Linked DNA regions of Homo sapiens. The protein of the gene in region 6 purifies or fractionates together with the protein of the main gene of each other region. This does not show direct contact. Each region holds a gene or a part of one and is shown on either strand. Other genes may lie near its edges. The genes, in order: KDELR2, EVPL, EHD4, ALDH3A1, NXF2B, ZC3HC1 and DSC3.

Region 1 (3,500 bases), about 120 Mb from region 6:
ACAAATATAGCAGGCTCACTGAGTGCTTTTGTACTACATTGTTTATTGTGGTACATATGTATAATTATTGTATACTACTTTATGAATTATTTTACCATAGTTTGTATTCATTTTCCAACCCACTTACTTCATTTCAGGGTCCCAGGTGGCCAGAGCCTATCCCAGCAGCTCAGGTTCAAGGCGCGAACTTTCCCCCAACTGCATAGGATGCCATTCCATCACAGGGCGCGCTCACCCACACCCACTCACACTAGGACAGTTCACACATGCCAGTTCACCTAACTGGCATCGTTGAGATGTAAGAGGAAACCAGAGTATCTCTGGTGGGAGATTCTCCAAGAGTATCTCTTGGAGAAGACCCACGTGGACTCGGGGAGAGCATGCAAACGCCATGGATGGCGGCCCCAGCCGGGAACCAGTTTCTTTTCTCATCAGTGTTACAACCAAAGGATGTTATTGGCAGACCTGCTATACACACAATAAGTTTGGTTGCCTCTCAGATGCATTAGGCTAACTGAAATTGGACCCAGAAGGCAACATACTATGTGACTCCATTTATGTGGCTTTCTAGAAAAGGCAAAACTATGGACAGAGAACATAAGTGTGATTGCACTGCAGGAGGTGAAGGAAGCCTGGGGGAGTTTGACTGCGAAGCGGCAGCATGGCAGAATTTTGGGGATGATGGAACTATTCTGTGTCCTAATTTTGGTGGTGGTTATGCCTCAGAACTGAACACCTCCAAAAAAGAGAATTTTACTATATTTAAGTTTTAAAATTCCAAAAACAAAGCTAAGGAAAAAAATCTTGCCTTTCCAAATACATGGGTGATTAAAAAAGCTGGGGGGTGCTGGAACAGTGGCAAGGTATTGACACCTGGTGTTTTTTCTTTTATTTGTAGGTTATCTACCTTGCCTGCTCCTATGCCACAGTGTACCTGATCTACCTGAAATTTAAGGCAACCTACGATGGAAATCATGATACCTTCCGAGTGGAGTTTCTGGTGGTCCCTGTGGGAGGCCTCTCATTTTTAGTTAATCACGATTTCTCTCCTCTTGAGGTTAGTTTAAAAGGTTACTTAGGGCCAGGCATGGTGGCTCATGCCTGTAATCCCAGCATTTTGGGAGGCCGAGGCGGAGTTCAGCCTCCACTTTGGGTGGATCATGAGGTCAGGAGTTCGAGACCAGCCTGGCCAACATGGTGCAACACCGTCTCTACTAAAAATACAAAAAATTAGCTGGGTGTGGTGGCACGCACCTGTAATCTCAGTTACTCAGAAGGCTGAGGCAGGAGAATCACTTGAACCCAGGAGGCGGAGGCTGCAGTGAGCCGAGATCACGCCATTGTACTCCAGCCTGGGTGACAGAGCAAGACTGTCTCGAGGGAAAAGAAAAAAGAGGTTATGGCTGGGCGTAGTGGCTCACGCCTGTAATTCCAGCACTTTGGGAGGCCAAGGTGGGCACATCACGAGGTCAGGAGATCGAGACTATACTGGCTAACATGGTGAAACCCCGTCTGTACTAAAAAATAAAAAAAATTAGCTGGGCATGGTGGCGGGCACCTGTAGTCCCAGCTACTGGGGAGGCTGAGGCAGGAGAATGGCGTGAACCCGGGAGGTGGAGCTTGCAGTGAGCTGAGATTGTGCCACTACACTCCAGCCTGGGCGAGAGAGTAAGACTCCGTCTCTCAAAAAAAAAAAAGAGGTTATTTAGGTCTGGGCCTGGTGGCTCACCACACCTGTAATCACAGCATTTTGGGAGGCCGAGGTGGGCAGATCACTTGAGGTCAGAGGTTCAGGCATTCAGCCTGGCCAACATGGTGAAACCCTGTCTCTATTAGAAATACAAAAACTGGCCATGCGCAGTGGCTCACGCCTGTAATCCCAGCACTTTGGGAGGCTGAGGCAGGTGGGACACGAAGTCAAGGGATTGAGACCATCCAGCTAACACGGTGAAACCCCGTCTCTACTAAAAATACAAAAAACTAGCTGGGCGTGGTGGCGGGCGCCTGTAGTCCCAGTTACTTGGGAGGCTGAGGCAGGAGAATGGCGTGAACCTGGGAGGCGGAGCTTGCAGTGAGCCAAGATCGCGCTACTGCACTCCAGCCTTGGCGACAGAGCGAGACGCTGTCTCAAAAAAAAAGAAGAAAGAAAATCAAAAATTAGCTGGGTGTGGTATCGCACGCCTGTAATCCCAGCTACTCAGGAGGCTGAGGCAGGAGAACCACTTAAACCTGGAGGCGGAAGTTGCAGTGAGCCGAGATCGAGCCACTGCACTCCAGCCTTAGCGACAGAGCAAGACTCCATCTAAAGAAAAAAAGTTAATTTCATGGTCATGTCTGGTTATCTAGAATGGACCTATTTGCATGTTTGCAGATCGTGTAGGTTTTCATGGAGTTTTTTGTTTTTATTTTCTGGTTTGGCAAACTCTAGTGCAATGTTCATGACTGGTGTAAAAAAATCGTAGATGAGAATTAAGCACCCACATATTTAGGTGTCTGCTGACAGTTTACTGTCTGATTCATTTGAAATAGAAACTTGAAACTGTATTTCATTATCTTGACTTCAGTGGTACCAAACACAGAGCCCTGCCTGTCCCAGTGTGGGAAGAACAAGGTCTCCCTCCTGTAGCCCACATTTTGTTTGCTTTTCATGTACAGATGTGCACTGATGTCGTGTCTGTGACCCTGCTTAGCAGCACTCTGCACCTCTTGCCTTTAGGAAAGCTGGTTTGTGGTGCCCCTAGTACTGTGCAGTGAGCTGATCTGCTCCTGAGTGCCTCTTCTTTCCCTGCTGAACAGGCAAACGGTGCTGCTTCACATCCTGGGGCCGATCAAGTCACTGTGCTACCCTGGGTGTCTGATGGGTGCTGGGAGTGCCTGGACTTTTCTTTTTTTTTGAGACAGAGTCTCGCTGTCACCCAGGCTGGAGTGCAGTGGCATGATCTCGGCTCACTGCAACCTCCGCCTCCTGGGTTCAAGCGATTCTCCTGCCTCAGCCTCCCGAGTAGGTGGGATTACAGGCACCCACCATCATGCCTGGCTAATTTTTGTATTTTTAGTAGAGACCGGGTTTCACCATGTTTTCCAGGCTGGTCTTGAATTCCTGATCTCAGGTGATCTGCCTGTCTCGGCTTCCCAAAGTGCTGGGATTACAGGCATGAGCCACCACACCCAGCCATGCCTGGACTTTTAAAATACTCAAGGACCCTCTGAAAGTCCTTCTATCATCATCGTGAATAAAGTCATACGCTGGGCAGAGAATTTCCATAATTACAGTTGTGACTTCTACCCCTTTGATTTAACCACACCAGAAAGCTTAAGGAATAAGAAAAATAGTGAAAATATTTCAGTAGTTTGGCAAGATCAGTCAGTGAGGAAAAACAGCAGTGAGGAAGTGGAAGGAGCTTATCAATTATCAGTATTGTCAATCCTGGCGGAAAGCAGGGTTGATTTGGTATCCCAGATCTGGAGCAGGACAAGCTTGTCCAGGAGAAACCTCTGTA
Region 2 (3,500 bases), on a different chromosome or scaffold from region 6:
GCCAGGAGAATTGCTTGACACCAGTAGTTCCAGACCAGCCTGGGCAACATAGCAAGACCCTGTCTCTATACAAATAGATACATCTCTATCAAAATAAATAAATAAATAAAATTTTATGGGGATGAGGTGGGGGGAAATTAAATAAAATATTTCTTAAAAGGCTCTTTAGGAGAATAATAATGAAAAAAAAAACGGTTGAGAAACCCTGATATAATATGCAACTGGGATTTGGGGGCAGATAATGTTTCATACATTTTCCTATAGAACCACAAGACTGTGATCACACACGTTGACAAAAATTCCGTCAAAGCACCTGGAATGCTTCTTTAAAGCACAGCTTCTTCTCCGGGGCTGGGACAAGTGCAGCTCCAATACCCTCTGTCCCAGCAAGAAAGACTTCAGGTGCTGGAGGGAGGCAGGTGACGGTGCCCTTCATTTGTGCAGGAAGGACGAAGACCAAGTGTTTTATGACCCACTTAAAAAAATTAAGTTCAGTGCACAAATAAGACCCCATTTGCAAGAGCACACCAGTGATAAAAGGTCCTGCCGCCTGGGTAGGAAAAAGAAAGACCGACCAGAGTAGGGGAGAGTGACAGTTTAGGTTTAGCTGGTTTAAGTTTAGCTGGTTTAGGTTTATCTGGTTTAAGTTTATCTGGTTTGTGTTTAGCTGGTTTAGGTTTATCTGGTTTAAGTTTATCTGGTTTGTGTTTAGCTGGTTTAGGTTTAGCTGGTTTAGGTTTATCTGGTTTAAGTTTATCTGGTTTGTGTTTAGCTGGTTTAGGTTTAGCTGGTTTAGGTTTATCTGGTTTGTGTTTGGCTGGTTTAGGTTTAGCTGGTTTCGGTTTAGGTGGTTTGTGTTTAGCTGGTTTAGATTTAGCTGGTTTAAGTTTAGCTGGTTTAGGTTTACCTGGCTTAGGTTTTTCTGGTTTAGGTTTAGCTGATTTGTGTTTAGTTGGTTTAGGTTTAGCTGGCTTAGCGGTTACTGGTTTAGTTTAGCTGTTTCACATTTATCTGGTTTGTGTTTAGCTGGTTTGTGTTTAGCTGGTTTAGGTTTAGCTGCTTTGTGTTTAGCTGGCTTAGGTTCAGCTGGTTTGTAGGGTCAGTGGGCAGCAGGTTGCACGAGGCTCTGCCCTTGACCACCCAGTGAACTCAGTTCCAGGAAGAGGCCGACTCAGTCAGCCAGACCCTGGCGAAGCTCAACTCCAACTTGGATGCCAAGTACAGCCCTGCACCTGGGGGCCCCCCTGGCGCCCCCACAGAGCTGCTGCAACAGCTGGAGGTGAGACAACCCCACCAGGCCGTCTGCACCCCACTTCTGGGAATTGGTCCTGTCCATTTTTCTGGGCCTCACCCCTTCTGCCTTGGTACCTAGTCCTATCCCAAGCCCTGGCCTGGGTGCTGGCAGGGGGGTTTACTCTAGCAGGAGGCTGGCCAGGTACCAGCAAGCTCCTCCCACTTCTGGACGTCAGTTTCCTCATTTGCAGTGGGACAAGGGCAGCCTGGGAGAGCTCTGAGGCCTGTCTAGCTTCTGCTTGGTGGCCTGGGTGATGCTGTGCCATCCCCCTCCCTGCAACTAGCAGATCCCAGGATCCTAGGTCCCCCAGAGAGGGGCTCCTTTTACTTTGCTGACTTAGAGACCCCTGCCTTCATGAAGGCCAGCCTCTAGGCCTTTTGAAGGACAGGTATGGTGTGGCCAGCCTCCAATGCAGCCTGGCCTGAGTCCCCCACTGCCTGGGCCCCCGGCAGGCAGAGGAAAAACGGCTGGCCGTCACCGAGAGGGCCACTGGGGACCTGCAGCGGCGAAGCCGGGATGTGGCCCCTCTGCCACAGCGAAGAAACCCCCCTCAGCAGCCCCTGCACGTGGACAGCATCTGCGACTGGGACTCAGGAGAAGTGCGAACTCCCCCACCTCACCCCTGCCACCATCCAGCCCCGCCCAACCCATCCCCTGCCCCTGCCCAAGCCCATCCCTGCTCCATCCCCAGCTGTCTCCTGCGCCCACTTTTGCCCTACTCCTTCCCTTGACTCAGACCCTCCTCTCTCCAAGTCCTGTCCTGCCTCTTTTCTACCCCAGCACCTCCCACCCTACTCTTGTCCCTGTTCCAGCTGCTGTCCCCATTTGTCTCTGTCCCCAGCCCCTACTCTGCCCTGGCCTTGGCCCCCTGCCCCTGAGCCCTCAGGAGCTGCTCCCTTTCTGTGCCCCCAGGTGCAGCTGCTGCAGGGTGAGCGGTATAAGCTGGTAGATAACACTGACCCGCACGCCTGGGTCGTGCAGGGCCCTGGCGGGGAGACCAAGCGTGCTCCCGCCGCCTGCTTCTGCATCCCAGCACCAGACCCTGATGCTGTGGCCAGGGCCTCCCGGTAGGTCTGTGTAGGGATACTCAGGGGCAGGCTGTGGGCAGAGCAGGCCGGCCCTGCGGTGTCCAAGCCCATGGCCCAACAGACCCCTGCTCAAAGGCTGGCCTTCACCTGAAGCTGCGTCTACTGGGGCTGGGGAGGGAGAGAGGCAGAGTGGGGACCTCTTTCTTCAATCTCCTCTTCATTCTAGGCTGGCCTCAGAGCTGCAGGCCCTGAAGCAGAAATTGGCCACAGTCCAGAGCCGCCTGAAGGCCAGTGCTGTGGAGTCTCTTCGGCCCAGCCAGCAGGGTACCCAGGGTGGCCCGGGGAGAGGTGGCTGTGGGGCTAGAAGGAGTAGATTCCGACTTCCGACTGGTCTGTGATGGGCAGGGGTCGCCTTGGGTTAGGGACCATCACTCTGGGGATTTCATCTCTGGGGTGGCCCTGCCCATCCCCTCCACCCTACCCCGACAGGACCCTCTGTGGGCACCTGGTGGGGGCACCTATCTGGCAGTCTGGAGATAGGCCCTGGGCCCTCACCAGCACCTCTGCCCCCAGCTCCATCTGGCTCAGACCTGGCCAACCCACAGGCCCAGAAGCTCCTGACACAGATGACCCGGCTGGATGGAGACCTGGGACAGATAGAGAGGCAGGTGCTGGCCTGGGCGCGGGCCCCGCTGAGCCGCCCCACACCCTTGGAGGACTTGGAGGGCCGCATCCACAGCCATGAGGTGGGTGAGCAGCGGGAAGGGGCGGCTGGGATGAGAAGCGGCCCGGCCCTGGTGCTCACACTTGAGGGAGGTGAGGCAAGTGCAGGAGCGGTGGCTGGGATGGAGATGGAGAAGGGTGTGGACAGACCCGGGCTCAGACAAGCTGGTTCCCCTCCTGGCTCCTCCACTGACCAGCTCCAGGATCTTGGACTACATAACTCTCTGGGCCTTGGTTTCCTCATCCCTGAAGCAGATGTAATAATGCCCAGCTCGCCTGATCATTCAGGAAGGTTCCAGTAGGGCCCAATGTCAACACCCCAGGAGGTATTCTGGTGAAGCTCCTGAAATAGCAAGGAAGCCTGGAGAATCTTAGGAAGAGATGTCCCCTGGCTGCAAGGGGGAGCCTACCTGGGGAGGTTGCAGCATTGTGTAAACTCCTTACCCAAGAACAGC
Region 3 (3,500 bases), on a different chromosome or scaffold from region 6:
ATTTTTTTTTTTTGAGACAGTTTCGCTGTTGTTGCCCAGGCTGGAGTGCCATGGCATGATCTCGGCTCACCGCAACCTCCCCCTCCCGGGTTCAAGCAATTCTTCTGTCTCAGCCTCCCGAGTAGCTGGGATTACAGGCATGTGCCACCACGCCTGGCTAATTTTGTATTTTTAGTAGAGATGGGGTTTTTCCATGTTGGTCAGGCTGGTCTCAAACTCCCGACCTCAGGTGATTTGCCCGCCTTGGCCTCCCAAAGTGCTGGGATTACAGGCGTGAGCCACCGCGCCCCATCCCAAACTACACATTTTTAAGAGCTCCACTTTCTCCCTTCATATGCTCTGTTCCCTCTCCCCAGAAAACTTATTCTAATGAGGAAAAAAGAGGGAAGTCACTCAAGAAACTATATAGGCTTTAAAAGGGTAGAGAGCAGGGAAATAAGGCAAGAAAAGAAATAAACTCCCAGACTGGAGAGAAAAAAGTAAAACTCTTTGCAGATGACATGATCTTCTATGTAGAGAATCCTAAGAAACCACTTAAAAACTATTAGAACAATGGGGGAAACTATAGTTCAACAAATGGTGCTAGGACAACTGGATAGCCGCATGCAAACGAAATAGAGAATGACTGTTAGTGGGCGTGGAGTTTCTCTTTGATGTGATGAAAATGTTCTGAAATTGGATAATGATATTGGTTGCACAACTTTGTGAATATACTAAAGGAGTGCACCCTGTAAAAGAATAAATTTTCTGGTATATGAATTATATCTCAATAAAAAACCAAAACAATTCAGTCTTTCAACACTAAGCATCATGTGATTTAATTTTCATGATTCTGCAACTAGCGCCAGCCAAGTAATTTCTGCATCTATGTGTAATAATTTAAAATAGAAATGGATGCCAGAAAGAAAACAAAGTAGAAATAAGCTAGAAGAACCCAAGGGCAAAGGAACTAAAGAGTAAAGATGAGGGGCCAGGTGCAGTGGCTCACACCTGTAATCCTAACACTTTGGGAGACTGAGGTAGGTGGATCGTTTGAGCTCAGGAGTTCAAGACCACCCTGGGCAACATAGTGAGACCCCATCTCTACAAAAAAAAAAAAAAAAAGGAGTAAAGATGAGGGAAAAGGGAGTGAAAGTAGCCATCCCACAATCCCTGTATGAGTATTCTTGTCAATGTATAAACATGTTCATTGTTCATAACACTCAAGTTGGTAAAATCAAAGTATGATAAAAATTTTTAATAAAATGCTTGATACCGTAATTGTGTTTAAAAACTTTAGATATTAACATTTAACTATAGTATTTAATAGGGGAAAAAAGGGGCAGGGGTGCATGTGCAAGGGTGCAGACAAGGTTTATGGGCGGTATGAAGGATCAAGAAGCTGGAGTGGGCTGAGAAGGTAAAAGTGCCTTGGACATTAAAAAAGCCTTTTAAGGTATGATTAGAACAAGAACAAGAATCAGGAAGTGATCGGCCCACTCATGGGCTCTTGCTGCAATATTAACAGAAAGCAGAACTACTCAGCTTCCTCCTTTTCCTCAAAGAAAATGCCCCAGAGATGGCAGAAGGGAGCCCAGCTGTGTTCAAGAGGGGATTAAAACCACAGGCTGAGGAGCTCTCCCAGGGCCTGCCACAGGCGAGGTTCAGGAAATCTCTGGCCGGACACATGGATGAAAGAACTTGCATTTCTGCTCAAAGAACTGTATTTGGTGGCTTTTAAGAAATTGTGAAGAATATGAAAAGTATTGGAACACTGGAAGCAGGCAGATGTTCTCATTTTCAAAAAAGCAGGGAAATGGATTCTGAATAGGAACAAAGGCCTGCTTCATTCCCTTGATAAGTTTCTAGACTCAGTAATTAAGGAAAAGGGAAGTGAAGGCATTCACTAATAGGCAGCCTGGTTCATCTATTTTTAAAAAAATAAAATCTCACACAGAAAAACTATGGGTCCTATTTAGTGGTTCTCACACTCATCCAGATACTGGGGCTCCTGAAAATCAATCTTCTGTTCCAAATATTATACCCTTTACAGATCTCTCTAAAATATTGAGATATTTAATTTTTACAGAAAATTAGACTATATTTTCAATATACAATATAAGATCACACCTACAGATGCTAGTGTTCATTTATTCAAATGATCTTGATTTCAGGGTTGGGGCCAGCCATCACAGAAGAGAGTCAACAGGCCACAGCTCTGAGTGACAAGGGCTGTAACACTAGAAACACAGGGTGGCTGGGGGCATAGGAGGGACCCCCTCATTCAGGCTTGCGGGTTGGAAAAGGCTGCCTCCCTGAGAATGCAGCCTAAAAGCTGAGCCCTGAGGAATGAGCAGAGAATTAGCTGCCCAAAGAGGGCCAGGGAGTGAGGGTGGGGAGGTGTCACCCATGAGGCCTCGGTTTCTGGGGTAACTGGGGAGTACAGCTGTTCACTGAGATGGGGATCCAAGAAGAGGAAGGATGGGGCATAATGATAAGTTTAGATTTAGACCTGTCATGTTTGAGTGGACACCAAGGTGGCGATGTCCATGAGGGGTAAGACATGGGTCTGGAGCTCAGGGAGATATCTGGGCTGGTCTGTTGACTTGGGAGTGTCAGCATTTAGTAGCCAGCATCTGGGAAGTAGAAGTCCTTGCACAGGACTCTTAAGTGAGAGGAAGCAGAGCTTGTGGAGACCCTCCGGGGAAAGTACCAAAGAGGTGGGTAATTGCCTGGGAGGGTAGTGGCTCAGTGCTGTCTCAGATCTCTTTAGGTTGCAAGTGACAGAAATCCAACCAAAGCTAGCTTAGATAAAAAGATAAGAACGTTTTCCTGAAACCCATCAGACCAGGATGTGCAAGCTTCAGGCTTGGCCCAGGACTGCAGGAGACACACCAGGACTCTGTTGGCTCTGTGGCCCTCCTCATGTTGTGTTCCTTCTCAGGGGTGGGCAGGCGGCCACCTCCATTTCCAGCCTCGAATTCTGCTGGCTCAGCAGCCCCAGTAAAAGTCTCAGGCTTGAGTCTCATTGGTTTGACCCTGACCATATGCCCATCCCTGAACCAATCCTTAGGGGCAGGGGCATGAAATGTGGGGAGTGGGGAGGTCAGCCCCACCAACCACGTGGCCTGAGAGCTGGGGAAGGCAGCTCCTGAGGATGCTGCTACCAAGAAAAGGGGATACGAGGCAAGTAAAGCAACGATGACCCCCACAAAAGCCAGGGAGAGAGGTGGTGGTCAGTAGTGTCAGATGCTTCCAGGAAAAGGACTGAAACAGAACCAGTAGATTAGCCTTTGGGAGCCAGGTGACCTTGCCAAGAGGTGTGCCTGTGAGTGGTGGTGAAGGAAGCCAGATGGCGCGGGTTGAGGAATGAGTGGGATGTGAGGCGTCAAATTCTCAGCAGCTAGGCCTGGGGGAAGGAGGCCTGGCCACAAGCATCACAGGGGTTTGGGTAAAGACAAGCACAACCTCAGCAGAATGAAAAGTGGACAGAAGGGAAGCCATGGAGAGGGAGCAGCTGG
Region 4 (4,210 bases), on a different chromosome or scaffold from region 6:
CCCCACAGCCAGCCTGGCCCACAGGCCTCCGTGAGCCCCCGCCCCAGGAGAGTCATTCACCTCCACACCTCCTGCTGGCAACAGTGGACACATCGCACTTTTTCGTGACATAACGTTCCCAGCCTCTGTGCCTTTGCTTCTGCTCTTCCAGCCCCCTTGCTGTTCCTTGCCCAAATGCTTCTCACTCAGCTCAGATGATGTTCCCTCCCACGGACTCTCACCCCAGCCCCTCTAGCATCCTCTGCCTACCTGGTTACTACAGTGTTCACATTATTTTGAAATTTCCTGTTTATTTTGTCAGTCAATAAATATTTATTGAGCATCTACTATAAATGCTGTATGGAGGTTACAGCAGTGAACAAATCAAATTCTAGCTGTCAGGAGTTAAGGGACAGGTAGCAAACAAGATATAAACGCTCCAGAGAAAAAATAATGGAGGAAGACGACAGCATTGTGCTATTTTCCACAGCACATTGGAGCGTAGCCGTGTGGGTGGATGTAGGGGAAGGGGGCTCCAGGTGGAGAGAAGCAGGAGGGCCAGAGCACATCCTCAGGACTCGTAGGCCAGGACCGGAACCTTGTGTTTTCCTCGAATGAAATGGGAAGCAGGGACCCCATGCTGGTAAGCAGTCTGCCTGCAGGCGGGTGAGGGTGGCGGGAAGCGCCTGGTGAGAGGGGCCGAGAGTCTGTTCCACACCTGCCTCCTCCCCACAGCGTGGTGCAGAGCAGGAGCCCAGCGAACATTGATCAGACAGCGTGGGAACGGCTTTTCCAGACTCCTTCCTTCCCAAGCATCTCTGGTTTTCGGTGACCACACAGACCCTTGGCCCTCTTCTCAGCTATTCAACGAGAGAGCAGATTTATGGATTGGAGACCCCCATCAAAAGTCCCCAGCCTGTGGCTCCCCAGGGTTAGGATCTCTGACTCAATGGGGCCCTGTGCACACTGGGGGATGTGAAGGGCCCGGGGCAGCGGTGGCTGGGGGTGCGTTTCGGGGGAGCTGCATGCTCTCACTGTGGTTCGTGGCTGAGCCCTGCCGATCTTATGTAACCAGAGAACTCAGAGAACCGCATCTGGCAGCGGCAAGTCTGGAAAGCTGGAAGAGCTCCATGCCAGGCTGAATCAATCAGCAGCCCCCACGCCCAGGGCAAACATAGGCTCTTTTGAAGATTGGAGATGTGCCCTGCCCAAGCCTTCAGAAACATTCTCGCATTTCAGAAGTGAACAAAAGCAAACAGCCCGGGACCTAATCCCCAAAACCTGGGCTGTAGGGAGCAGAGGTCCAGAGGACGCCACACCCCACATTTGAATATTTTTTTTTCTTGTCACGCAAACTTCCTGGGCAGGAACTCCAAGGGCTCAATGGACGGGAAGCAGGGTCCTTAAATACGTCCCCTCTTGGCTCTTGCCGTTCCAGGAGCCCCAGTTACCGGGAGAGGCTGTGTCAAAGGTAATCCTCTTCCCTGCATTCCTTATTTTTTCTCTTGTCTAGGTGGAGTCTGCACTCAGAGCCGGGGCCCTAAGTGTCAAGAGTCCTACATCATCTCTCCAGGGGGTCCCTGCCTCTGGGACCATCATCTCTGGAGCATCCTCCTGGACCTCTGGCAGCTCTGCCATCCCCCAAACCAGGAGGCAGAGGTCCCAGGGATCCGCGGAGCAGGGACACCAAGGTGGCCGTGGAGTGAGAGGCCCTGATGGGCCGTCAGACTCCATGACTGGAAGGAAGGCAGCAGAGCCGAGTGCTAAAGGCATGAGCTGCTGACAGAGATGCATGTGGGTTCAAACCCTGACATGCCACCTGCTAACTGTGAGATCAGATACAGCATTAAACGTTTCTCAGTCTCCCTTTCCTCATCTGTAAAATGCACTCATAACCGTTTCTTCTTCATGGGCATCACTACAGAGCTTTTGTGAGGATGGAAGGCAATGAGGAGGGGAGGAGGTGTCACTGGGGGGCAAAGTCAACACTGGCACAGGTGAGAGGAGCGGGGTGCAGGAATGTGGGGTGTGAGGCGACGGGCTCTGGGGAGGCCCCCAGTGCATGCTGCAGCAGCTCCCATTTGGGTGCAGCTGCGACGTGATGGTGTCCACTCATCTCTGTGAAGTGGCACCTTTGTTAACCTGTCTCTCGGGGAAGTCCTGGGAAGGCCGTCCAGCCCAGAGACCACAGTTCCAAGTGGCGATGCTGGGGTGCAAGGCCAATCCCGTCCCACGCTCACCAGGCTCTTCCCACCTGGGCTGCCTGCCTTGGTTTGACCGTACAAGGCTCGGGAGAGAAGCGGGACCTTCTCTCCTGGGTTGTGGTCAGCAGGAGGGGCCTGGCCCATGGGACTGAGGAGGTCCCAGTGAGGGGGCTTTCCCAGCCTCCTATCAGAACATAGGGAGGGACCATGGAAGGGCCAGGCTTAGAGCACCCTCAATGCCAGCAGGTCCCTCCTCCCTGTGCAGAAAGCCTGGGATTAGGGGTCAGCCTATGGGGAGGGGAGGCAGAGGAAGGATTGGAAGCCACTCGCTGGAATGTAGGCAGGACCATATATCTATATACAATATAATTATATATTACATATGATATATAGGGTTTTTTAAAAAAATGGAAATACCCTATTTCTGCTGATGTTAAAAGTTATGCCGGGTCTGCAAGTGGGCTGAGTATCTCAGGAAGGGGAGTAAGGAACTGGTAACAGTGGCCCCTCTGTGGGGCAGCACCTGACAGCTGATGGAGCAGGGAGGAGGGAGGCAGACTTTTTTCTGTGCCCCTTTGCTATATTTTACATTTTGTTTCATGAGCATGTAGTGCCTATCTTAAAACGCACCAAAATTTAAAAAATACAAGCTCATTGCAAAAAGTCAAACATTGCATAAGAGGAAAACAGATCATCAATAATTCCACCCCCATCAGTTGTCTCATCGTGTCGGGGGCTACCGTTCTAGTCCTTTCTTGCATGTTAGAGCGTGCACGCCCACACACACACGCACACGCGCGCACACACACGCACATGCACACACACGCACGCACACACACACGCACATGCACACACACGCACACACACACATGCACACACACGCACACGCACACACACACACGCACACACACACATGCACACGCCTGGTACATCTGTTGTTCTGTAACTTGTTTTCTGTTTTTCTTTCTTTCTTTCTTTCTTTTTCTTTTTTTAGATGGAGTCTCGCTGAAAGTAATTATATTACTTACCCGAGGCCTTCAAATACCGCTTCCACTGACAGCCTCTTGACTTCTAGCAAATCTCACTAACCTTGCCTTACCTCCTACCACTAATCTAATAGGAGAACTCTGTGATTATGGCTCCATTCTCCCGGTCAAAGTGCTGGAGTGCAATGGCCCAATCTCGGCCCACTGCAACCTCCTCCTCTCAGCTTGGTTCAAGCAATTCTCCTGCCTCAGCCTCCCAAGTAGCTGGGACTACAGGTGCCTGCCACCACTCCCAGATAATTTTTGTATTTTTAGTAGAGACAGGGTTTCACCATGTTGGCCAGGCTGGTTTTGAACTTCTGACCTCAGGTGACCCGCCCACCTCAGCCTCCCAAAGTGTTTGCTAGGATTATAGGCGTGAGCCACCGCGCCCGGCCTGTAACCTGTTTTCTTTCTTATCCCCAGTGCCTGAGACACCCCTGGTGCAGAGAGAGCCCCTACAAACATGCTGAATAGCCTGCTCCACCTAATCCCTAAATACTGCACAGTAAACCCTTACGTGGGTGTGACAGGAGTCATTTAAACTGTCTCCTTTCTTTCGGATCTTTGGGATGTTTACAATACTTCCCTGTTATAGAAAACAGTGATGACTTTCTTATTCGTGAATGTTTAGGAAAGGCTGTAGGACCTTTTCGTCACAGAGAAGTATGTTTGAAAAACTTTTGCCACATATTGCCAAATTGCCCCCAGCAGGGCCATCCCGATTTGCCACTATACTTTCGTGTATTGGTAGCAGGAATCGCCTCCACACCTCTTTGTGGAAATCTGCAGCTCTCTGAATCCTTGGCGGGCATGGGCGTGCGTCTCCCAGGTGTGGCACGCGTGGTTTACACACCAAGCCTGGTTCAGCTCTGCCAAGAAACCAGCGCTTTTTAGAACAATGGCTTAGCCAGGAGGGTGGTGCTGGGTTTTTCTTTATCGGCTTGGGTGTGGAATCGCGGACTGCGCCCCTCCAATCTGATCTGGAGAGTGGCTGACTGC
Region 5 (3,500 bases), on a different chromosome or scaffold from region 6:
TGTTGTTGGGGGTGCGGAGTTATCTACTTGTCCAGTTTGAGGGTGCATTTTTCTTTCCTCCAGTCTGTGCATCGTGAATGACGAGCTGTTTGTGAGGGATGCCAGCCCCCAAGAGACTCAGAGTGCCTTCTCCATCCCAGTGTCCACACTCTCCTCCAGCTCTGAGCCCTCCCTCTCCCAGGAGCAGCAGGAAATGGTGCAGGCTTTCTCTGCCCAGTCTGGGATGAAACTGGAGTGGTCTCAGAAGTGAGTGCTGGGAGTACATGGGGATGGGGGCTGTTGGGACATCAGAGGAATGAGTAATGGAAACTCACATGCAATTTGGAAAAATAACTATCTGGGTATTTTGCTTCCAAAAAAAGTGGGTCCATGAAAAAGGTATCATACTTTTATACTGGTATATGTAAATATTTTTTTAAATGGCATAATGCCCAAATGACATTACCTTCCATTTGTAAAATCTGAAAGAATCAACCACAATAAACTACTGATAAACCAGGTCAGCAAGGTTGAAAGATACAATATACAAAAATCATTTGTACTTCTATGTAGTTGCAATGGACAATCCAAAAAAATGAAATTAAGAAAATAAGTCCATCTACAGTAGCATCGAAAAGAAGAAAGTATGTAGGAACAAATTTAAGAGAAGAAGCGCAAATCTTGTACTCTGAAATCTGCAAAACATTGCTGAAAAAAATTAAAGAAGACCTAAATACGTGGAAAGGCATCCCACGTTCATAGATTGGAAGACTTAATATCATTACGATGGCAGTACCACCCAGAACAATCTACAGATTCATTGCAGTCCCTGACAGAATCCCAACTGACTTCTTTGCAGAAATTGACAAGGTAATCCCAAAATTCATGTGGAAATGCAGTGGACCCCAAACAGCCAAAACCATCTTGAAAGAGAAGAACAACGTTAGAAGACTCACACTTCCCGATTTCAGAACTTGCTACAAAACTACATTAATCAAGACTGTATGGTACCGACATAGGAACAGACGTGGGAATCAATGGAATATAATTGAGAGTCCACAGATAATCTCACGTATTTATGTCCAGTTGATTATCATTCAGGGTGCTGAAAAAATCCAATGGAGAAAAAAAATAGTCTTCTTAACAAATGGTGCTGGGAGAAGTGGATATCCACTTGCAAAACAATTAATTTTGACCCCTAACTCACATCACGTGCAAACACTGGCAGAAAATGGATCAATGACCTAAAATAAGAGCCAGAACTGTAAAACACTGTAAGTGTACATCTTCATTACCTTGAATTAGGCAACCATTTCTTACATATGAAACCAAAAGCACAAGCAACCAAAGAAAAAATAGGTAAATTGGACTTCATCTAAATTAAAAGCTTTTGTGCATCAGCAGACACTATCAAGAAAGCGGAAAACCGACTGGTGGGAACAAGGGAAAATATTTGCAAATCACATCGCCGACAAGAAGAACCCTTACAACTCAACAACAAACAGACAAGCCACCGAATTAAAAAATGGGGAAATGATTTGAATAGATGTTTCTCCAAAGGAGATATACAAATGACCAAGAAGCACGTGAAAATCTTCTCAACATCGTTAGTCATTAGGGAAACGCATATCGAAACCACAGTGAGTTACCACTTCATACCCACTACGCTAGCTTTAGTCCATAAAAGGAAACATGACAAATGTCGGTGAGAATGCAGAGAAATTGGAAATCTCATGTATTACTACTGGGAACATAAAGTGGAGCAGTTGCTGGCAAAAAGATTTTGGCAGTTCCTCAAAATCTTAAACATGGAGTTACCACATGATCCAGTAATCCCACTCCTAAGTGTATACCAAAAGAAATGAAAATATATGCCCATTCAACAACTTGCACATGAATTTCCGTAGTGGCATTATTCCAAATAGCCAAAAAATGGAAACACATGGATTGACCTTCAGCTGATGAATGGATAATGTGGTACATCCATACGGTGGAATATTATTAGAATATTATTCATCCACAAAAAAGGATGTAGTTGTGATATATGCTATGACGTGGATGAACCCTGAAAACATTATGTGCTAAGTGGGAGCACCCAGTCACAAAAAGCCACATAATTATATGATTCCATTCATACGAAGTGTTCAGAATAGCCAGATCCGTAGAGACCGAAAGCAGAGTAGTGGTTGCCAAGATCTGGGGAAGAGGGAGAACAGGGAGTGATCTCTAACAGTTAAGGAGTTTCTTTTTGAGGTGATAAAAACAGTTTGGAATTAGATAGGTGTGATGGTTGCACAATCTTGTGAATAGACTTAAAAGCACTGAATTGTACACCTTAAAATGGTGACTGCTACAGTATGTGCATTATATCTCAATAGAAAAGAAACGTATTATTGAATTTCCACTTGTTATTTCTTGAACATCTTTCTTTATCAATATGTATTAAGCTCCCTTGTTCATTTGAATACCGCTATGTTTCTGATTTGAATTCTAGTGGGCATTAATGTCAGGGATGGGCGTTTTGGTTTTCCCCAGGCCTTTTTTCATTGTTACAATAGTGCTCATATTGGTACATGTGACCCAGCAAAAAGGTAGCATAGATTAAGGGTGGCATTGCATAGTCAGCGTGTCTGTCCTGGGCTAGTAATGGAGAGCACCTGTTCTTCTCCCACCCCAGGTGCCTTCAGGACAATGAGTGGAACTACACTAGAGCTGGCCAGGCCTTCACTATGCTCCAGGTGAGGTCTGGGAATCAAGTGGGTAAAAGACAGCTGTCTCTGGGTCGTCAGGAGGGCCAAGAAGATGGAGGCCAGGTAGTGTGGGGATGGAACCCAGTGCACCTGGCTCTACTAACATCCCAACTCCTTTTCTTTACTTTCTCTAGACCGAGGGCAAGATCCCCGCGGAGGCCTTCAAGCAAATCTCCTAAAAGGAGCCCTCCGATGTCTTCTTTGTCTTCGTTCACATCCTCTTTGTTTCCTCTTTTCACCAGCCTAAGGCCTGGCTGACCAGGAAGCCAACGTTAACTTGCAGGCCACGTGACATAACCACCCAAAGAGCCAGTTGCTCTGTGTATTCGCCCCACTCATGATCACCATTTTATTTTCATAATAAAGAGTGACGTTACACGTTGTACATTGTGTGCCCTGGATTGCTCTTCCCCTGCCCCAGCCGTGAGCCAGCGGGACCAGGACTGAAAGCACTGCATCCCTGTTCATCCCTGGCTGGCCTTAGCAGATACATGAATCTGGCTTGCCTTCATAGGTAATTTTGTCCGTAAATCCTCATGAGAAAGGACACACGCTCCTTCCAGAGACTGGCCTTGAGAGACAGTTGGACTCTGTCAGATGCTCGACCTGGAGGCCCACAGAAGCAGGCATGTTACCTTGGCACACCAGGGGCTTCCATCCACCGTCCCGACCCCTCCCTTTCCCAAAGGTGCACTTTTCGAGGAGTCGTCTCAGGGTAGCACCTGCGGCGGGGGGTGGCGGGGGAGGGGGATACTCAGCCCATCTACCCGG
Region 6 (3,500 bases):
TGAGCCAAGATCGCCTCACTGCTCTCCAGCCTTGGCAACAAAGCGAGACTCTGTCTCAAAAAAAAAAAGAAAAAAGATTAAAGAAAGAAGTATTTCTGACCATAATCATTAATATCATTCGTGTACTTCCATTATCTCCCCTTTCCTTCAGGCTGAAAAGAGCCCTGGTCCCATTGTCTCTCGAACTCGGAGCTGGGACTCTTCCAGTCCTGTTGACCGTCCTGAGCCAGAGGCTGCTAGCCCCACCACCAGAACTCGCCCAGTGACCCGAAGCATGGGAACAGGAGACACCCCTGGCCTGGAGGTACCATCTAGCCCTCTGCGGAAAGCCAAGCGAGCTCGCCTCTGCTCCTCCAGCAGTTCGGTGAGTCCACCTCGCATGTAGCAGTGGCTGAGCATAAACAGCATATTGGGCCCTCCCTAGGCAGCATGGAGAAGCAGGCAGGAGCCCTTCCGTGGTCCAATGCAAAAAGTAGACCATGTGAATAAATTTAAAGTTGGATGACCAAAGGGAAAAAATGTCAGTCATGTTTTTTGCTCCTTTTTGTTCCTTTGGAGTGGATTCTGGAGAAATAATAGATATTTCAGGCAAATGGAACAACGGTGTGATACAGGGACAAACCTGATCTGGCAGCGGTCCCCAACCTTTTTGGCACCAGGGACCGTTTTCATGGAAGACCATTTTTCCACGGACCACGGTTGGGAGGATGGTTTCGGGATGATACGAGCACATTACATGTATTGTGTACTTTATTTCTATTATTATTATATTGTAATATATAATGAAATAATTGTACAACTCACCATAATATAGAGTCAGTGGGAACCTGCAGCTTGTTTTCCTGCAACTAGATGATCTCATCTGGGGGTGACGGGAAACAGTGACAGATCATGAGGTGTCAGACTCTCATAAGGAGCCCGAAGTCTAGATCCCTCTCATGTGCAGTTCACAGTAGGGTTCCTGCTCCTATAAGAATCTAATGCCACTGCTGATCTGACAGGAGGCAGAGCTCAGGTGGTAATGCAAACAATGGGGAGCAGCTGTAAATTCAGATGAAGCTTTGCTTGCCCGCCTGCTGTTCACCTCCTACTGTGCGACCTGGTACCCATCCATGGCCTGGGGGTTGGGTATCCCTTATCCCTTGTGATAAGGTATAGTTTGTTTAACACAAAAGGAGTGAAAAAATAAAGAAAATGAGAGGAAAATGTGTAGGCAAAGTTTGAAGGAGAGCATAAACACTCGAAGTATGGGTAGTTGTGAGATTCTGGACTTGATAACTAACAGCAGTGCCTCCCTGAACTTACATAGCATCTACCTATGAATGCTATTTCTTTTTCTCCTTCCTCAGGACACATCTTCCCGAAGCTTCTTTGATCCCACCTCTCAGCATAGAGACTGGTGCCCTTGGGTGAATATCACACTTGGCAAAGAAAGCAGGGAGAATGGTGGAACTGAACCAGATGCCAGCGCCCCAGCAGAGCCAGGCTGGAAAGCAGTGCTGACCATCCTCTTGGCGCACAAACAGTCTAGCCAGCCAGCTGAAACGGACTCCATGGTGAGATACGCCACTGCCTTGTGTGTGGGCAGCACTTGCTGTTTATGGGAGGTGGAGCAGAGGCTGGGCCTATAATTAGCACCCCGCCTGCCTTCAGCTTTCATACGTCAAGTTATTTGGGTTTTTTTGTTTGTTTGTTTGTTTTTTGAGATGGAGTCTCGTTCTTGTTGCCTAGGCTGGAGTCCAATGGCACGATCTCAGCTCACTGCAACCTCCGCCTCCTGGGTCAAGCGATTCTCCTGCCTTAGCTTCCCAAGTAGCTAGGATTACAGGCGCCCACCACCACACCCGGCTAATTTTGTATTTTTAATAGACAGGGTTTCACCATGTTGGCCAGGCTGGTCTCGAACTCCTGACCTCAGGTGATCCCCCCGCCTCGGCCTCCCAAAGTGCTGGGATTACAGGCGTGAGCCACCGTGCCCGGCTTATACGTCAAGTTAGACTCATTCTGCTTTCGTCCTAGGGATTAGGCATAGAACCGGTTCGTCTTTCTGTAGTTTAGCATATGGCATTCCGTCAAGTTCTGATAAATTCTTTTGTTCTCCTAAATAAAGTGACTCCAAGTAGAAAAGGAGTACGGAAACAGAAATAGATGAACAGGCAGCTGCTCCGGCCTCATGTTGCAGACAGCTGCTTTTTCTTTCATTTGCTGTCACTTGCACTTGGAGCCTGGCCAGTTAACTTAGCTGTTTGGAGCACTGGGCTCTGACACCAAGATGATGGCCTCATTCCGCACGCTGGGCACATTACTTTACTCTGTTCCACAGCCCAGACTGTGACTCTGCTAGCCATTGCAGCCATAACTGCTGTGGGTTACAAATGTGGGTGACAACTGAGAAGAAAAGTCAAGTGTTTGCTCTGTGTAAAGATTGGAAGTGATAGGCTGGGTAATATGGAACCATGAAAACTGGGTTCTCTCCTTCGCTGGCTCACTCCCAAATTTTCCTTGTAGCTGGTAACAATTTCTGATCGTAGTCTATAACTTTCAAGGACAAAGTAAAATAATACTTGTCAGCAGATATTTATGAGCAGCACTCCTAGATTCATGGTTTTCTAGGGTTACAGGATTCCACTGGAGGGAACTATAGTAATGCTAAAAGTCCAAAATTGCATGGCTGGGTGTGGTGGCTCACGCCTGTAATCCTAGCACTTTGGGAGGCCAAGGCGAATGGATCACCTGAGGTCAAGAGTTTGAGACAACCTAGCCAACATGGTGAAACCTCGTCTCTACTCAAAATACAAAAAAAAAAAAAATTTGCCATGTGTGGTGGCAGGCGCCTGTAATCCCAGCTATTGGGGAGGCTGAGGCTGGAGAATCACTTGAACCCAGGAGGCGGAGGTTGCAGTGAGCCGAGGTTGCGCTCCAGCCTGGGCTTCAGAGAGAGACGCTGTCTCAAAAAAAAATAAAATAAAAATAAATGTATATTAGTACCCTTAGTAAATATGCAGGTGAAGGTTTTCCAAGTTTTCACAGAAAAAAAAATCCGCATTTCTCTGCCTAGATCTTCAGGAACTAGTACATTGGCAGTTTTCAGTAAGACTCCTCTCTGTCACTGCCATACGAAAAAGAAAGCCTATGGGTTTTGTTTTTGTTTTGTAGTGGGAAAAGTTGGCCTCATAATTGGCCCTGGATTCCAGGACTTTTTTTTTCGGTAGTGTGTCTTAACCTTCTGACAGCTGCTGTGACGAAGCTAGAAAGCTTAATGAGACTGTGTGGTAAAGGATCCTGATGTTCGAAAAAAAAAAGTATATACCGAGGCCAGGCACAGTGGCTCATGCCTGTGATCCCAGCACTTTGGGACGCTGACGCAGGGGAATCACCTGAGGTCAGGAGTTCGAGACCAGCGTGGCCAACATGGCAAAACCCCATCTCTACTGAAAATACAAAAATTAGCCAGGACTGTTGGTGTGCACCTGTAATCCCAGTACTCCAGAGGCTGAGGC
Region 7 (3,500 bases), on a different chromosome or scaffold from region 6:
GCGCCTGTAATCCCAGCTACTTGGGAGGCTGAGGCAGGAGAATTGCTTGAAGCTGGGAGGTGGAGGGTGCAGTGAGCCAAGATCACGCCATTGCACTCCAGCCTGGGCCATAGAGTGAGACTCAGTCACACACGCACACGCACACGCACACGCACACACACACACACACACACACACACACACACACATACACACAGAAGCAGTTAGAGCAGAGCAGACATCATTGTCTTGTTCCTGATGTTAGAAGAAATGATTCTGTTTTTCTCCTTTAAATATGAAGTTAGTTGTTGTTTTTCATAAATGAACTTTACCATATTGAGCAAATTCCTTTCTATTCCTAGTTTGCTGGGGTTTATTGTAAATGGGTGTTGGACTTTGTCAGTTGCTTGTTTTACATCTATTGATATGATTATGTTTTTTTTAATCTTTATTTTCTACTGTATTAATGTGACCTTTTAAATTCTAGATCTTCAGTCGTGCTGGTGAAGCCTGCAAAAAGGTGATACTTAATGTACCTTCTAAACTAGAGGCAGACAAAATAATTGGCAGAGGTGAGAAATTTTAAAAGTCTTTTTAAAGCAGAAATTTAGTTTACATAGGCTGGAAAGAGCATGATATAATACCTTTGCCTTTTGGAGTTAGCCTGAATCTACTAAAAAGGGATGTTCCTCCAGGGAGTAAACCAGAAGTTATCATTCTGTTAAAAATGTGAAGAGAGAAATATGTCATCAGCCCTGAAGATGTTTATTTATTTATTTATTTTTGCTAAATATTTCCACCTGGGACAGATTTGAATTAAAGTGAAAACACGACTCATGGACAGCAAATGAACCCTTTGAGAGGTCTTTTCTTAACTGAGTAGTAATTTATCCATTTGCCTTATGTTAAGACAAATAGTTGAAGAATGGCATGGATGACAGGTACATTTTGATATTTATATGCATTTTATTACCTGTTACTAGAGGCCAGAAATCCCAGGGAAGAAAGACTCCATGTAGAGTTTCAGTGTGCGGCCTTGGAAAGCTTGGAACACACAGAGTATTTTGGGCCTCCAGGGAAAATTGTGTACAGAAAAGTGCCAGTGGGAAGAAAATTTCGGAGATTGGATTTTTCTAACATGACTCTTTACCAAACTCATACACTCCATTGCTCTTTGGCTCATGGCTTCTCACTGAATATAGGTGTATCTTAAACACTCAGATTGTATTGTTAGGGAAACTCTTCTATATGTTTATTCAGGTGTGTTGGGGGCATGTTGCTCAGTTTTGTCATGATTATAACATGCCCACATCTTTAATTGGAAGGTCATTTTCATAAGTCTATTAGAAGCATATAAAGGTTTAAAACACCTTATTTAATAGAAATATACACTCAATAATTATTTGTTAACTGAAAGAAAATGATCATTTTTTAAGTAATGTAAAAAACAGGTTAAGATATCTGGTAAATGCAAAGTGATTGGCTTATTTCATCCCACTTCATGGTTTTTAAGAATATTATATAAATTATTTTAACACGTTTTTTTTTCTCATGTGTTTTTACCTTACAACTTGGAAATTTTTACTTGCAGTTAATTTGGAAGAGTGCTTCAGGTCTGCAGACCTCATCCGGTCAAGTGATCCTGATTTCAGAGTTCTAAATGATGGGTCAGTGTACACAGCCAGGGCTGTTGCGCTGTCTGATAAGAAAAGATCATTTACCATATGGCTTTCTGACAAAAGGAAACAGACACAGAAAGAGGTTACTGTGCTGCTAGAACATCAGAAGAAGGTATTTAAAGTACATTAAATATTTTCAGTCATTTTTTCATTAAAATACTCTTATTAAAAATTGCAAAGAGAAACAAGGATAAATAGGGTATTTTCCCCTTTTGTTTTCATTTTGTTTCCTTTCCTTTCACTTCGTTTCCATTTTCTTACCCTTTTCCTTCCCCTCCATTTTCTTACCCTGTCCTTTTCATTCCTTCCCTTTTCCTTCTCCTTTCCTTCCCCTTCCTTTTCCCCTTCCTTTTCTTCCCTCCCTGTCACCTTCCCTCTCTCCCTTTTTCTATCCTTCTCTCTACCTCTCACTCTATTTTTGTCTCTCCCTCTCTCTCTTTCTTAACACTTGTTGAACTCTGGTTTTGGTTTTACTTTATTAAATCTGAATTATTTCTCCTCTGTGAGGGCTTCTTCCACCTCTACATTCTAACTATTGTCTTTTGTGCACTGGTGTCAGTTTGGTTATCCCTCTATTATAGAACTCAGAATTTTTTTACTGCAAAACCTTTACAGTGAGGAATGCCATTATGAAAGTAGTCACAAAATGATGAAAGGTTTAGACTGGATTACATCTAATCTGTGTTAACTGTATCAATAATAAAGCTAATTTAAGTTACAGCTTAGCACTTTGCTAAATGTTTAATGCAATTATTAATTAATTCTTATGAAATAAAATGTCTCCCTTGCTGCATCATGAAATGAGATGGACATCACTAAAAAGTCTAATAGAACTTTTTCCCATGATAGAGATGGCACTATCTGCACTGTTTGATATGACAGCTCAATATTAATGGCTACTCTGCACTTGGCATGTGGCTAGTGCAACCAAAGGATAGAGCTTCTTATGTTATTTAGTGTCAGTTAATTTAAATTTAAATAATCACATGACTTATGGTGGCCAAGGGCTACCATATCAGACTGTGTAAATAGAGCACTATGGCAGTGAAGGACATACATTTTCTTTCTCTGACCTAAGGGCATGAGCTTTTAACTAAAAGAACAAGTAAGTGCTATCTGGAGATTGTTGTAGACAGAATATGTTCTATGTCTCCATTTGGGACAAAGCAAGAAGAACTAAGAATATAGTGGTGATTTTCCTAACATGAAAGTATAGTCAGTGTTAGAATGGTATACAAAAAGAAATTCTCTGTTTCTTGAAACCTTTAAAATCTGGATATGTTCTTTCTTACCCTTCTAATGCAGAAAGACTTTATTAACTGGTTTAGCTCCAGCATGGAAATGCCTGACACTGAAACTCCAAAGAAGGATTAGGTTTATGAGCTGTCCACTATTTTACACAAAGTAGACTGTGATGCTTTTGTTTATTCATGTATTTGTTTTTCTCTAAATTCAGGTATCGAAGACAAGACACACTAGAGAAACTGTTCTCAGGCGTGCCAAGAGGAGATGGGCACCTATTCCTTGCTCTATGCAAGAGAATTCCTTGGGCCCTTTCCCATTGTTTCTTCAACAAGTAGGTTTACACCTTTTCTGGTCAGGGTTGCTTTAATTCTAAGAGTCTGTTTCATTGAGATTTAATACCTCTTTAAACATATAAAAATAAACAGATCTGATTAAAGATGTTCATGAGGTGTAACAAAAGTAAAATGAGAAAGAAAATTACTAAAAACCTAATAATATGAGAAAGGCCCTAAAGCCATTGAATGATCTTTATTTGTTTATTCATTTATTTAGCAGGGAGTTACTGAGCACTTAACTATATCCTGCGGGAGGTACTGC

The links.
Region 1: the proteins of ZC3HC1 (region 6) and KDELR2 purify together in Homo sapiens (affinity purification with mass spectrometry, with the first as the bait; one large-scale study listed by BioGRID). This does not show direct contact.
Region 2: the proteins of ZC3HC1 (region 6) and EVPL purify together in Homo sapiens (co-immunoprecipitation; 2 studies listed by BioGRID and IntAct, with this or other methods). This does not show direct contact.
Region 3: the proteins of ZC3HC1 (region 6) and EHD4 fractionate together in Homo sapiens (co-fractionation; one large-scale study listed by BioGRID). This does not show direct contact.
Region 4: the proteins of ZC3HC1 (region 6) and ALDH3A1 purify together in Homo sapiens (affinity purification with mass spectrometry; one large-scale study listed by BioGRID and IntAct). This does not show direct contact.
Region 5: the proteins of ZC3HC1 (region 6) and NXF2B purify together in Homo sapiens (affinity purification with mass spectrometry, with the first as the bait; 2 studies listed by BioGRID). This does not show direct contact.
Region 7: the proteins of ZC3HC1 (region 6) and DSC3 purify together in Homo sapiens (affinity purification with mass spectrometry; one large-scale study listed by BioGRID and IntAct). This does not show direct contact.

What each region holds. Positions count from the first base shown.
Region 1 is NC_000007.14:6,467,153-6,470,652, reverse strand, and holds part of KDELR2 (ER lumen protein-retaining receptor 2), read left to right. Parts: intron 1-898; coding exon 899-1,057; intron 1,058-3,500. UniProt on the Homo sapiens protein: Membrane receptor that binds the K-D-E-L sequence motif in the C-terminal part of endoplasmic reticulum resident proteins and maintains their localization in that compartment by participating to their vesicle-mediated recycling back from the Golgi.
Region 2 is NC_000017.11:76,017,307-76,020,806, reverse strand, and holds part of EVPL (envoplakin), read left to right. Parts: intron 1-1,153; coding exon 1,154-1,279; intron 1,280-1,746; coding exon 1,747-1,893; intron 1,894-2,206; coding exon 2,207-2,361; intron 2,362-2,548; coding exon 2,549-2,646; coding exon of another isoform or gene 2,647-2,712; intron 2,713-2,895; coding exon 2,896-3,068; intron 3,069-3,500. UniProt on the Homo sapiens protein: Component of the cornified envelope of keratinocytes. May link the cornified envelope to desmosomes and intermediate filaments.
Region 3 is NC_000015.10:41,966,058-41,969,557, reverse strand, and holds part of EHD4 (EH domain-containing protein 4), read left to right. Parts: intron 1-3,442; exon of another isoform or gene 3,443-3,500. UniProt on the Homo sapiens protein: ATP- and membrane-binding protein that probably controls membrane reorganization/tubulation upon ATP hydrolysis. Plays a role in early endosomal transport.
Region 4 is NC_000017.11:19,745,499-19,749,708, reverse strand, and holds the start of ALDH3A1 (aldehyde dehydrogenase, dimeric NADP-preferring), read left to right. Parts: upstream 1-1,410; 5' UTR 1,411-1,450; intron 1,451-4,096; exon of another isoform or gene 4,097-4,210. UniProt on the Homo sapiens protein: ALDHs play a major role in the detoxification of alcohol-derived acetaldehyde. They are involved in the metabolism of corticosteroids, biogenic amines, neurotransmitters, and lipid peroxidation.
Region 5 is NC_000023.11:102,360,009-102,363,508, reverse strand, and holds the end of NXF2B (nuclear RNA export factor 2), read left to right. Parts: intron 1-63; coding exon 64-246; intron 247-2,656; coding exon 2,657-2,717; intron 2,718-2,863; coding exon 2,864-2,908; 3' UTR 2,909-3,114; downstream 3,115-3,500. UniProt on the Homo sapiens protein: Involved in the export of mRNA from the nucleus to the cytoplasm.
Region 6 is NC_000007.14:130,020,375-130,023,874, reverse strand, and holds part of ZC3HC1 (zinc finger C3HC-type protein 1), read left to right. Parts: intron 1-151; coding exon 152-364; intron 365-1,349; coding exon 1,350-1,556; intron 1,557-3,500. UniProt on the Homo sapiens protein: Required for proper positioning of a substantial amount of TPR at the nuclear basket (NB) through interaction with TPR.
Region 7 is NC_000018.10:31,029,243-31,032,742, reverse strand, and holds part of DSC3 (desmocollin-3 isoform Dsc3a preproprotein), read left to right. Parts: intron 1-466; coding exon 467-551; intron 552-1,570; coding exon 1,571-1,770; intron 1,771-3,114; coding exon 3,115-3,234; intron 3,235-3,500. UniProt on the Homo sapiens protein: A component of desmosome cell-cell junctions which are required for positive regulation of cellular adhesion. Required for cell-cell adhesion in the epidermis, as a result required for the maintenance of the dermal cohesion and the dermal barrier function.